Regions from separate parts of the Homo sapiens genome. Here region 2 is linked to region 1. A link means that fine-mapping ties the variant in region 1 to the expression of a gene that starts in the linked region. Tissue or cell type: spinal cord. Region 1 holds a variant in brackets; the other region holds the start of a gene. All regions are shown on one strand. Distances are between the middles of the regions.

Evidence for each region. PIP is the estimated chance that this variant, and not a neighbour inherited with it, causes the effect.
Region 2: GRIN2A starts here. The variant in region 1 is fine-mapped to the expression of GRIN2A in spinal cord (GTEx, PIP above 0.99). The same link has a PIP of 0.9 or more in caudate, hippocampus and putamen.

What each region holds. Positions count from the first base shown.
Region 1 is chr16:9,969,811-9,974,810 of GRCh38, reverse strand. All of the region lies in intron 2 of GRIN2A (glutamate ionotropic receptor NMDA type subunit 2A), which reads left to right. Among named protein-coding and RNA genes, the nearest start is that of GRIN2A, 210 kb to the left of the region's middle. The variant T/C (reference allele first, on the strand shown) is at 2,647.
Region 2 is chr16:10,179,971-10,185,101 of GRCh38, reverse strand. It overlaps GRIN2A (glutamate ionotropic receptor NMDA type subunit 2A), which reads left to right and starts at 2,674. Exons shown (of 13, transcript NM_001134407.3): 1 at 2,674-3,225; 2 at 4,673-5,104. The coding sequence starts at 4,691. RefSeq lists silencers at 3,407-3,466, 3,477-3,586.

The DNA.
Region 1 (5,000 bases):
AAAGGAAGAAGTGAAATTATCTCTATTTGCATTTTTAAAGTGATTGCTCTAGGGATCACATGAAACATCTTTAGCTTTTCACAGGCTACTTAGGGTTGGTATTGCATTGCTTCACATACAATGTAGAAACTTTTCAGTATAGGGCCTACTCATTCCCCTTGTAGCAGGACGAGCCGCAGACAAAACTCCTCAGACACGGAGTTAAAGAAGGAAGAGGTTTATTCGGCCGCGAGCATCGGCAAGACTCCTGTCTCAAGAGTTGAGCTCCCCGACTGAGCAATTCCTGTCCCTTTTAAGGGCTCACAACTCTAAGGGGGTCCACGTGAGAGGGTCGTGATCGATTGAGCAAGCAGGGAGTATGTGACTGGGGGCTGCATGCACCGGTAATCAGAACGAAACAGAACAGGACAGGGATTTTCACAGTGCTTTTCCATACAATGTCTGGAATCTATAGATAACATAACCGGTTAGGTCAGGGGTCGATCTTTAACTACCAGGCTTAGGTCAGGCAGGCCCAGGCCTGATTTCGGGTCTGGTTCCTTGGTTTTGGGTCTGGTTCCTAGGCACCAGGCTAACTGCCTTTAGTTTCGCTTCTCTTTCTTTTTCTGAGTATAAAACCGTATAAAACAATGTGAGAGGGCCTGTCTCTCTTCTTCCACCCTCACCATCCTGTATGCTATAGTGTTATATGCATTGCATCTGTACATTAATACCCTAAGAGGCAATGTAAGGATTTGTGCTTTAAATAGTCACATGCATATGTATTTTTTTAATTAAAAGAAGAGTCTTTTATGCTTATCCAGATATTTATGCTTCTAATGCTCTTCATTAATTCCTGAAGGAATTAGAGTTTTCTTCTGGTATTATTTTCTCTTGTATCAGCTTGAATAACTTCCTTTAGCATTTCTTGAAGGGCTGGTCTGCTGGAAATGAATTCTCTTAGTTTTATTTTATCTGAAAAGTCTTTAATTCTTTTTCATTCTTGAAGGGCATTTTCACTAATTATAGAATTTGTTTTTTTTCCCCCCAGCACTTATAAAGACATTATTCCACTGTCTTCTGGACTCTGTAGTTTCTAATCTTAAGTCTGTGAAAAATTTGAATCATTGTTCTCTATATATAATGTGCTATTTTTCTCTTGCTAATTTTGAGATTTTCTTTCTTTTGATTTTCATCAGTTTGACTGTGATGTGCCTAGCATGGTTTTCTCCACATTTGTCCTATTTGGGGTTCTTTGAGTTTCTTGAATTTGTAAGTTTATGTCTTTCACCAAATTTCTTTTTGGCCATTATTCTTCAATATTTTTTCCCCTTCTCCATTCTCTTTCTTGTAGGAACTTTTGAAACCACCTTTGCAAAAATTATAACTGAGAAATCATGGCAGTGAAAGAGATCTGACTTAAGTGACTTCATCTTGCTTCTAACCTCCAAGTTGTCCTTGTTTTTCCTGGGCGGAGGTGTAGGCCAAAATAACCTTCAGAGAAACTTAGTTTATAGTTTAACTTTGAAACAAAGAGATATTAGCCCTTTCCCAAAACAAACACCCTTCCTGCCTGGGGATTGCCTAAAGCCAGAGGATGAGAAATTATGGTTTAGGAGTCATGCAGTTGAAGGCTGCAAGACTCTAAACCTCCCCAAATTGCTCCTGGGGATAACATCACTATTGTAAAACCTAAGATCGGTACTTGAGATATTTTGCAGACCCTTCATCTGATGGATCAGTTAGCACCACCCAGATTGATAAACTGGCTCATCTGGCCTTGTGGCCCCCACCCAGGAACGGACTCACAGCAGGAGGACAATTTTAACGCCCTGTGATTTCATCTCCAGACAGCCAATCAGAACTCCTGAATCACTGGCCCTCTACCCACCAAATTATCCTTAAAAACTCTGATCCCTGTATTCTTGGGGAAACTGATTTTGAGTCATAATAAAACTCTGGTCTCCTGCACAGCTGGCTGTGTGTGAATTACTCTTTCTCTATTGCAATTCCCCTGTCTTGATAAATCGGCTCTGTCTAGACAGTGGCAAGGTGATCTTGGGTGGTTACACTTTAATCACATGTATGTTAGATCTCACTCTGTCAATTTATAAAAGCCCCTCTGCTTAAGTCATTTCTATTGATCTATCTTCAAGCTCTCTGACTCCTGCCTATGTCATCTTCATTCTCATGTTAGTTCTATCCAGTAAATTCTTTATTTCAGATATTTTGTTTTTCATTTCTAAATGTTCTTTTTTTTATTTTCCTCTTCTGAGGCTTCCTACCTTTTTCTTTGTGATGAGCATATTTTCCTTTACCTCATTAAGTGTATTGTTAGAATAGCTGCTTTAACACCTGGATCATATTGGGATTGGCCTCTGTTGATTGTCTTCTTTCCTTGAGAATGGGTCAGATTTCCCTATTTCTTATATGTAAAGTAAGTCTTTTTTGCTTGAGAATGGGTCAGATTTCCCTACTTCTTATATGTAAAGTAATTTTGAATTGTACTAGCACTTTGTGAATGCTATATTGTGGGTTATATTTCCTTAAAGAGTATTCATATTTGTGTCTTAGCAGGTAACTAACCTGGTTATACTTACATTTCCATATCTGTCTCTCAGGTGGAGGCTTAGTTCTCAGTCCTGTTGGGTTTAAATGCAAACTACT[T/C]TGAGCCTTGTCTACTCACCCTTTGTTCAAGGACTGGCCAGAGGCTTGGGCAGAGTTTACATATACATGCCAAGAATTCCCTTCTCTAAGTCTCCTCTTTCTGGGGTTTTTATATTCTGCTGGCCGTGGACTTCCAGGTCTCTAACTTCCACCTCCTCAGGCCAGAAAGAGGTTGGCTCTTCCACTAGATGTTGAGCCACCCGGTGCCATTTTGGGACAGCAGCATGCTGTCAGACCTAGGTGGCAAAAATGTAGAACTCTATGATGAGCCCTTCTTCCATGTTTCAATGTCCCTGTGAAATCTACTGGCTATTTTTACTCTACAGAGCCTTCAGGTATATTTTTTTTTTCCTTCTAGCTTTAATTTTTTACCTGTTTGGGTGTGGGAGGGAATCTGTTAAGAGATTTCCTACCATACCAGAAGCAGAACTCTGGCTATCTTCTGCTGTTTTCTTAAACTTCTACACTGCTGGAACTATTTTTCAGATAAACTAGATCAGATAATTTTTATGGTAAAGTTAGACTGACATGTCATCATCTTCAGCCATCTCATTTTCTTACCCGACATTGGCAGTTTTACATTCTTATATATTCTTGCTACAAGATACAGGAGCTAGAAACAAGAATCATTTTATTGTCAGTCACAGTTCTGTGGGTTGACTGGGCTCTACTAGGTGGTTTTTCTGCTGCATGTAATAACAGCTGAGGCTACAGTTCCCTGAGAGCACAGTTGGGCTGAAATGTATGAGATGGCTCATGACATGGCTAAGTGGATGGAGCTGGCTATTGGCTTGGGGGCGTAGCTCACTGCCTAATGTAACCTTTTTATGTGGCTTGGATTTCACAAAGCATGGTGGTTGAGTTTTGAGTTGACATACCCAAGGGAAATTGTTATATCAGGGAAGAAGTGGAAGCTTCTGTTTTACTGAAAATTAGGCTTTTCTATTGGTCACATAGTCACTGTGCTGGTCAGATTCAAGAGGAGAATAAAGCAATCCACCTGTCAATGGGAAGAATAACAGAAAACAGTGTGGGCATCCTTAATTCACCCCACCTCATACTGTCTGCTCTTATTTGTCACCCATAGCCTTTGTTCATGCCTTGATCATCTCTTTATAGAATTCCTGAAATAGCCTTCTAGCCTCTCCCCTTCCCCCCAGTCTTGCCTCTCAAATGACTATCTACACAACTCTTTGTCTTCTCCAGAAAGGCTTCCTTTATTTCCCAGGGTGAATAAGCCTCTCATCTCTCCATTATTCCATAGCATTCTGTAATACTTTAACATTTACTACATTGTTCTGAAATCATAAAATCTATTTGTCTGTCTCACCAACCAGTCTGCGTTTCTCAGGGGAAGGAACTATATTTGATATATCCAATATTTCTCCTGTTGAGAGTTTACCAGCCTGTAATTTTCTTAAGGTAGGGGACTCTGCCTGCTTTATTTATTTTATCTTCAGTACCTAACTTTGTGTCTAGCTCATCAGAGATCCTTAATACATATTTCTTGAACCAAAATGATTTTTTTTAAATTCACAGTCAGTTAAGGCAGAGCAAGAACTCGATTCCAGATTTATTTCCCCTCTAATTTACTTCTTTCTAGGGCCCTCCAGCAGCCAAGTGAATCTAAACAATCCTCAAGGCCTCTTTTCCTTAGCAGATCTATCGTATCTTTATCTCCATATCTCAAAAGCACTTTCTTTCATATGTTTTAAAATATAAACTGAGCTTAATAAGATGAAAAGGTTTCAGGATTTTCCTGCATTGGTCTCTACTCCAGTCTCTCTAGTGGGCAATGCACCAAAACACTGCTCTATTTCCTAGCTTTAAACTTGAAGAAATAATCTCCAAGCTCCAGGGCTAAGAAAAGGATTGTACATTAAAGACTTGTTGCTTTGGACTATGAACCTTACAGGTCAATTTTTTTCTGGAATAGTGCTAATAAAGAGAAAACAAGTTAAATTATTCACCTGGAGGCCTAGCAGGTTGTATCCTGAAGGCTGAAGTCAAGTGCTTACTCAAACATTGAATTTGAGCTGCTTTTTTCTGTATTAGGGATCCCAATGCTTGGTGCAGAACAAGAACTCGAGATTTCTTTGACGTCAAGGTTGGCTCTACCTAGAGTGTGATTCTTGAACTGTAGTGTGTATAAGATTCACACGGAGAGTGTGTTAAAACACCAACCCCAGGCCCCACTTCAGAGAATTCTAATTCAGTAGGTCTAAGATGGCGTGCGGGAGTAGGCGTGCCTGTGAGTCTCCTGTGAGCTGCTGATGCAGCTAAGGCTTTAAGGCAGAGTTGTTCAGCAGTGGAATTCTTGACATTTTGGGCTAGATAATTATTTGTGAATAGGG
Region 2 (5,131 bases), 210 kb before region 1:
CTGAGGCAGAAGGATCACTTGAGCCTAGGAGTTCAAGTTAATAGTGAGCTACGACCACACCACTGCACTCCAGCCAGGGCAAGAGTGAGACCCTGTCAAAAAAACAAAACAAAACAAAACAAACAAACAAAAAAATAAAAAAACACCAAAAAACCTTCACAAATGAAACCCTTGAGAGATATGCATTTTATTGTCTATAATTTATAACTCATTTAAATAAAATGGCCTAACTTCCCCTTTAGACCCCAAGCCAGAGTCTTGCATGGGTGCCAAGGAGTGGCCTAATCAGTTCAGCCCAGCCATAGACTCAAGAAAGGAAACATTTTCCTGTTCCCTGCCTTATATTATACAATCCCCCATTTTAATTTACTTTCCAGCATTTCCCTCACGCTTTCTCTGTCTTTTGGATTAAAAAAAAAACAAAAACAAAAACCCAGGAAACCCAGCATAGAACAACCAGCTCAATAATGAATCCATTTGTCTCCACACACTGTGCCCCTCTCCTGTCTCCATTTCAGCAGCCACATCCACATTCTTGGAAGAAGTTCCCCTGCTTCCAGGCTACTTCAAGGTGCATGATGTTGATTGAGCATCTACTATGTGCCAGACCTTGTTGACCCCTTTATTAAGGCTACTTCCTTTTCTTTTCAAAATAATCCTGAGAAGTAGATGTTTTTACTGCCCCCCATTTCCAGATTAGTGATCAATAAAGGGAAGTAATATAATGTCCAAAAGTGATATTTTAGTTTGATCCAGGTGCCATAGCAAAACATCATCAACAGCAGAAGTTTATTTCTCTCACTTCTTGAGGCTGGGAGGTCCAAGATGAAGCAGCAGCAGACTCAGTATTTGGGGAGGGCCTAGTTCCTGTTCATAGGCCGATGCCTTCTTGATTAAGTCTCACTTGGTGGAAGGACCTAGCTGACTCTCTGGCATCTCTTTTATAAGACCACAAATCCCATTTTACTCTCATGAAGCCATGAAGTCACCTCCTAAAGTCCCCACCTCCTAATACCATCACCTTGGGAGTTAGGATTTTATCCTATGAATTTGGGGGTGGGAACACACACATTTAGACCGCAGCAGGTGACATTAGGTTAAGTGGAGGAGGCAGGGTTGGAACAGTCATTGCAAAACCTCTTAGAATTTAAGACCCCTTTCCTTCCAAGGCCTGAAAGGCAGACAGGCGTTGGAGATACAGGTGAATATAAAAGGGGCAGAGCTCCTCCCTTGACCATGTATTTCATGCCCAGTCGCTAGAATTCAAGTCAACCAAGCCCTCACACACCCGGGCCGTCCCATGTTCTCTGGCTCACCTCTTCTGGTAGCTTAGAAGTGGCAGCCTCAGGGAGGCTTCTGTTTGGTAGAACTTAGAAGGAAGCATGTGGGAAATGCAGATGTCTTTGCTTTTAGGATTCTGGCTCCCTGAGATCAGAGGAGTGGGTTCCCGTACGGGGGTGGCGAGGCACAGGGAGAAGCATTGGAGCAGACTCTGTGTGTGTGTGTGTGTGTGTGTGTGTGTGTGTGTGTGTGTCGGCGCGCCTGTGCGTGGAGGGGGATAACTGTACCCAGCGCGAGGCACTGGGGGAGGAGGAAGCGGTAGCAGAGATCTGAATAATTGATTCTTCAGCCGCACCAGACGCCCGGGAGCGGGCGGAGAGCGTGGTTCCAACACCACGGACAGCAGCGCGCGCCGCCGCAGGCGCCCCCGTCGCCAGCCAGCCACCTATCCTGGCCTTATTTGCCGCCGTGCGCTCTCGGAACGGGTGGCCGCGCTCCGCGTCGCCGCCGAGGGACTGCGGGGTCTGTCTCGACCCACCTAGGAGAGAGGCTGCGGGCAGGAGACGCTTTCGCCCGCCGGAGCTCGAAGCCTCTTGGGCTTGAGCGGGGGCTACTGCGTCTCGCCGGCTGAGAACAAGTCCCTAAGTTGGTGTGGAGGGCGCCGCTACCTTCCTTCTCCTCTTCCTCGGAGGCGACCGCAGCAGAAAGACGCCCCGGGAACCCGGCTTTGCCAGTGCTGTGAACCAGGGTGTCCAGGCGCTCACCGGACTCCCGCTGGGAAGTGGGGAGCCGAACGCCCGGCGCGGAGCTGGCCCAGCAGCGAAGGGCCCGGAGGGAGCTGCCTTTCCCCGCCCGCGCCTCTCTCGGCCGGGGACCGCGGGGATCCCCGGCCACACGCGAGCGCGCTCCCACACTCACACACACACTCGCCCTCAAACACACCAGCCCGGAGCTGGGTTGCGGAGAGGGTGCTCCGGCGCGCTCAGAGGACCGGGCAGTTGCCGTCCGGAGTGGGGCAGGAAGCGGAGCTAGGGATCTTGGAGGGGAGCTCCTAGGGCTTGGCCGGATCATGGGACCGGGTGAGCGCTGAGAATCGCGGCCGCAGCCATCAGCCCTGGAGATGACCAGGAGCGGCCACTGCTGAGAACTATGTGGAGAGAGGCTGCGGTGAGTGCTAGCGCGGGACGCCGGGCCTGGGAGGCCCCCTTGGGAAGGGGGGAGGTGGGAGGCCTGAAGAGGGAGGAAGCGGCAGGATCACAAGAGGGTCGCTGCGTGGGAAAGATCCACCTCCCTCGGGGAACCGGGACCGCGGGAGCCCGCGTCCTTCCCTCCCCCTCTCCTACTGCTGGCTCGTCACAAACTCAGCCAGCGCCCCCCCACCCTCGTTACCTCCTCTTTCTCTCCCTACCTCCCTCGCTCAGCAGCTCCCGGTCGCACAACTCCCAGCAGCCGGCGCTGGGGAGGTGGTAGGGGGTGCGGGTGGAGGTGCCCAGTTAGCTTCTCGTGGGTGGCCAACCTGGGGCTCCCATTCTCCTGTGCACCCTGGAGTGGAGCTCCCGCTATCAGCCACAGGGGCTGAGGATCCGCACTGGGGGCGTCGTGGGCATCGGGCTTCAGCTTCCCCCCTCTTGTCTAGCCCCCCTGGGCGCATAGGGGGGCTTGTGAGCACTGCAGACTGCAGCCTTCCCCTCAACCCTCCCTCCCCTCGTTGGTGGGCTGACCCTGCCTCTCCTTCTCTCCTCCGCCCCGTTAGAGCCCTGCTGCAGAGCCTCCGGCTGGGATAGCCGCCCCCCGTGGGGGCGATGCGGACAGCGCGGGACAGCCAGGGGAGCGCGCTGGGGCCGCAGCATGCGGGAACCCGCTAAACCCGGTGGCTGCTGAGGCGGCCGAGATGCTCGTGCGCGCAGCGCGCCCCACTGCATCCTCGACCTTCTCGGGCTACAGGTACGTCCCAGAGGGAGATCAGGGCTCCTTGGGCCGGGGAGGAGGGAGACTCGACCGGAGGGAGAGCGGGAGAGGGATCAGGCTAGAGAGGGAGAGGGAAAGCGGGAGGGAGCCCAGCGGCGAAGTGCAGGAGGGGCACCAGGGGGCGCTGCGGCTCCGCGCTCCGCGGCGCTTACCCAGGAACGTCGAGGCCTCTTGGAGTTCGCCTCAACTTCCCCCGGCTCCAGCAGCGTCCGTCCCGAGAGGCGCGCGTCAGGGCACGCGTGCACGACCGTGCTGGTATTTGCAGGTACGCAGGGCTGTGCACCTGCCGCAGTTCATGCGTGTGCACCACCTGAGGACATGTGAGGACTCCGGCTGGCCGTGGGCACCGCTACAGCAGTCTGAGGAAGTGCGCAGAAAAGCGCGCGTGCCTATGAGCGTGTGCGGCCCACTGCCCACGTGCACCTAGGACTTGGCAACAGCGCCCGCAGTAGAAAGGCTAGGGAGGGGCTGTACAGTCCACGTCCGTCTGGGAGCTTCTTGGGAGCCTACCTTTCCCCCTACGCACGTTCTTTGCCAGCTCCTACGCGCTGGCCCGCGGGGGGACGCGCCTACTCTCCAGAATTCAGCATTGCACACGGCGCGCGTGAGAGAGGGTGTGTGTGTGTGAACATGTGTGTGTGCGTGTGTGTGTGCACGTGTGTGTGCACGCGCGCGTGTAGGGGTGAAGGACTCTCCACGGCCCCTTGGCTCGAGGTGGGGCGAGCCCCAAGTTCCCCAGGCACAGCGGAGCCTGGGCCCACCAGGCAGCGTCCTCACTCCCAAGCACTTGGGGTGTACTCTGACTGAGAGGAGCCGGGTCTGTAGTTGGGGCTGGGCGTAGAGCAAAGTGTGTGGTGCACACGACGGGCTCGTAGGGGGCGGGGTCAGCCAACTAGCTGAGCTCTCAAGCTGGGACGCGGGGTCTGGGTGCCGCCTCCGCACGCCCTGCGGGGTCTGTAGTTCGCTCCGCGCCAGCAGGGGGCGGGGTTGATAACTTGGTCCTCTCTATCCCAGGTGGGAGGGGTTGGATGGAGGGTTTATTCTGTGCACCTAGGAGCTTGGTGGGGTACAGAACACGCGCGGCGCTTAGGGTCTGTGGCCCGCGGCGAACTTGGGGAATGCGGTGGGGGATATGGACAGAGATGGGGATGGGGAAGTGCCTGGAGACAGGGGATGAGGAAGCTGGATGCGAGAAGGGGCTGGGGGATGGAGAATTAGCTCGAATTGGAGTTGTGGATAGAGTTAGAGATGGATCGAGGGATGTGGATGGCGTCGGGGACTCGGAATGGAGTCCGTGATCCCAGCAGCCTATCCTGCTGCTGAGTTCCATGCCTGGCTCCTAGAGCAGGAAGCCAAGTTGGTAATCCCTTTCTTCTGGTCGCCTTGCTCACCGCGGCCCTGCCTCTCACTCTTCACCTTGCAGGGACCGTCAGTGGCGACTATGGGCAGAGTGGGCTATTGGACCCTGCTGGTGCTGCCGGCCCTTCTGGTCTGGCGCGGTCCGGCGCCGAGCGCGGCGGCGGAGAAGGGTCCCCCCGCGCTAAATATTGCGGTGATGCTGGGTCACAGCCACGACGTGACAGAGCGCGAACTTCGAACACTGTGGGGCCCCGAGCAGGCGGCGGGGCTGCCCCTGGACGTGAACGTGGTAGCTCTGCTGATGAACCGCACCGACCCCAAGAGCCTCATCACGCACGTGTGCGACCTCATGTCCGGGGCACGCATCCACGGCCTCGTGTTTGGGGACGACACGGACCAGGAGGCCGTAGCCCAGATGCTGGATTTTATCTCCTCCCACACCTTCGTCCCCATCTTGGGCATTCATGGGGGCGCATCTATGATCATGGCTGACAAGGTAAGGCCGGAAACTGATGCCCTGCCA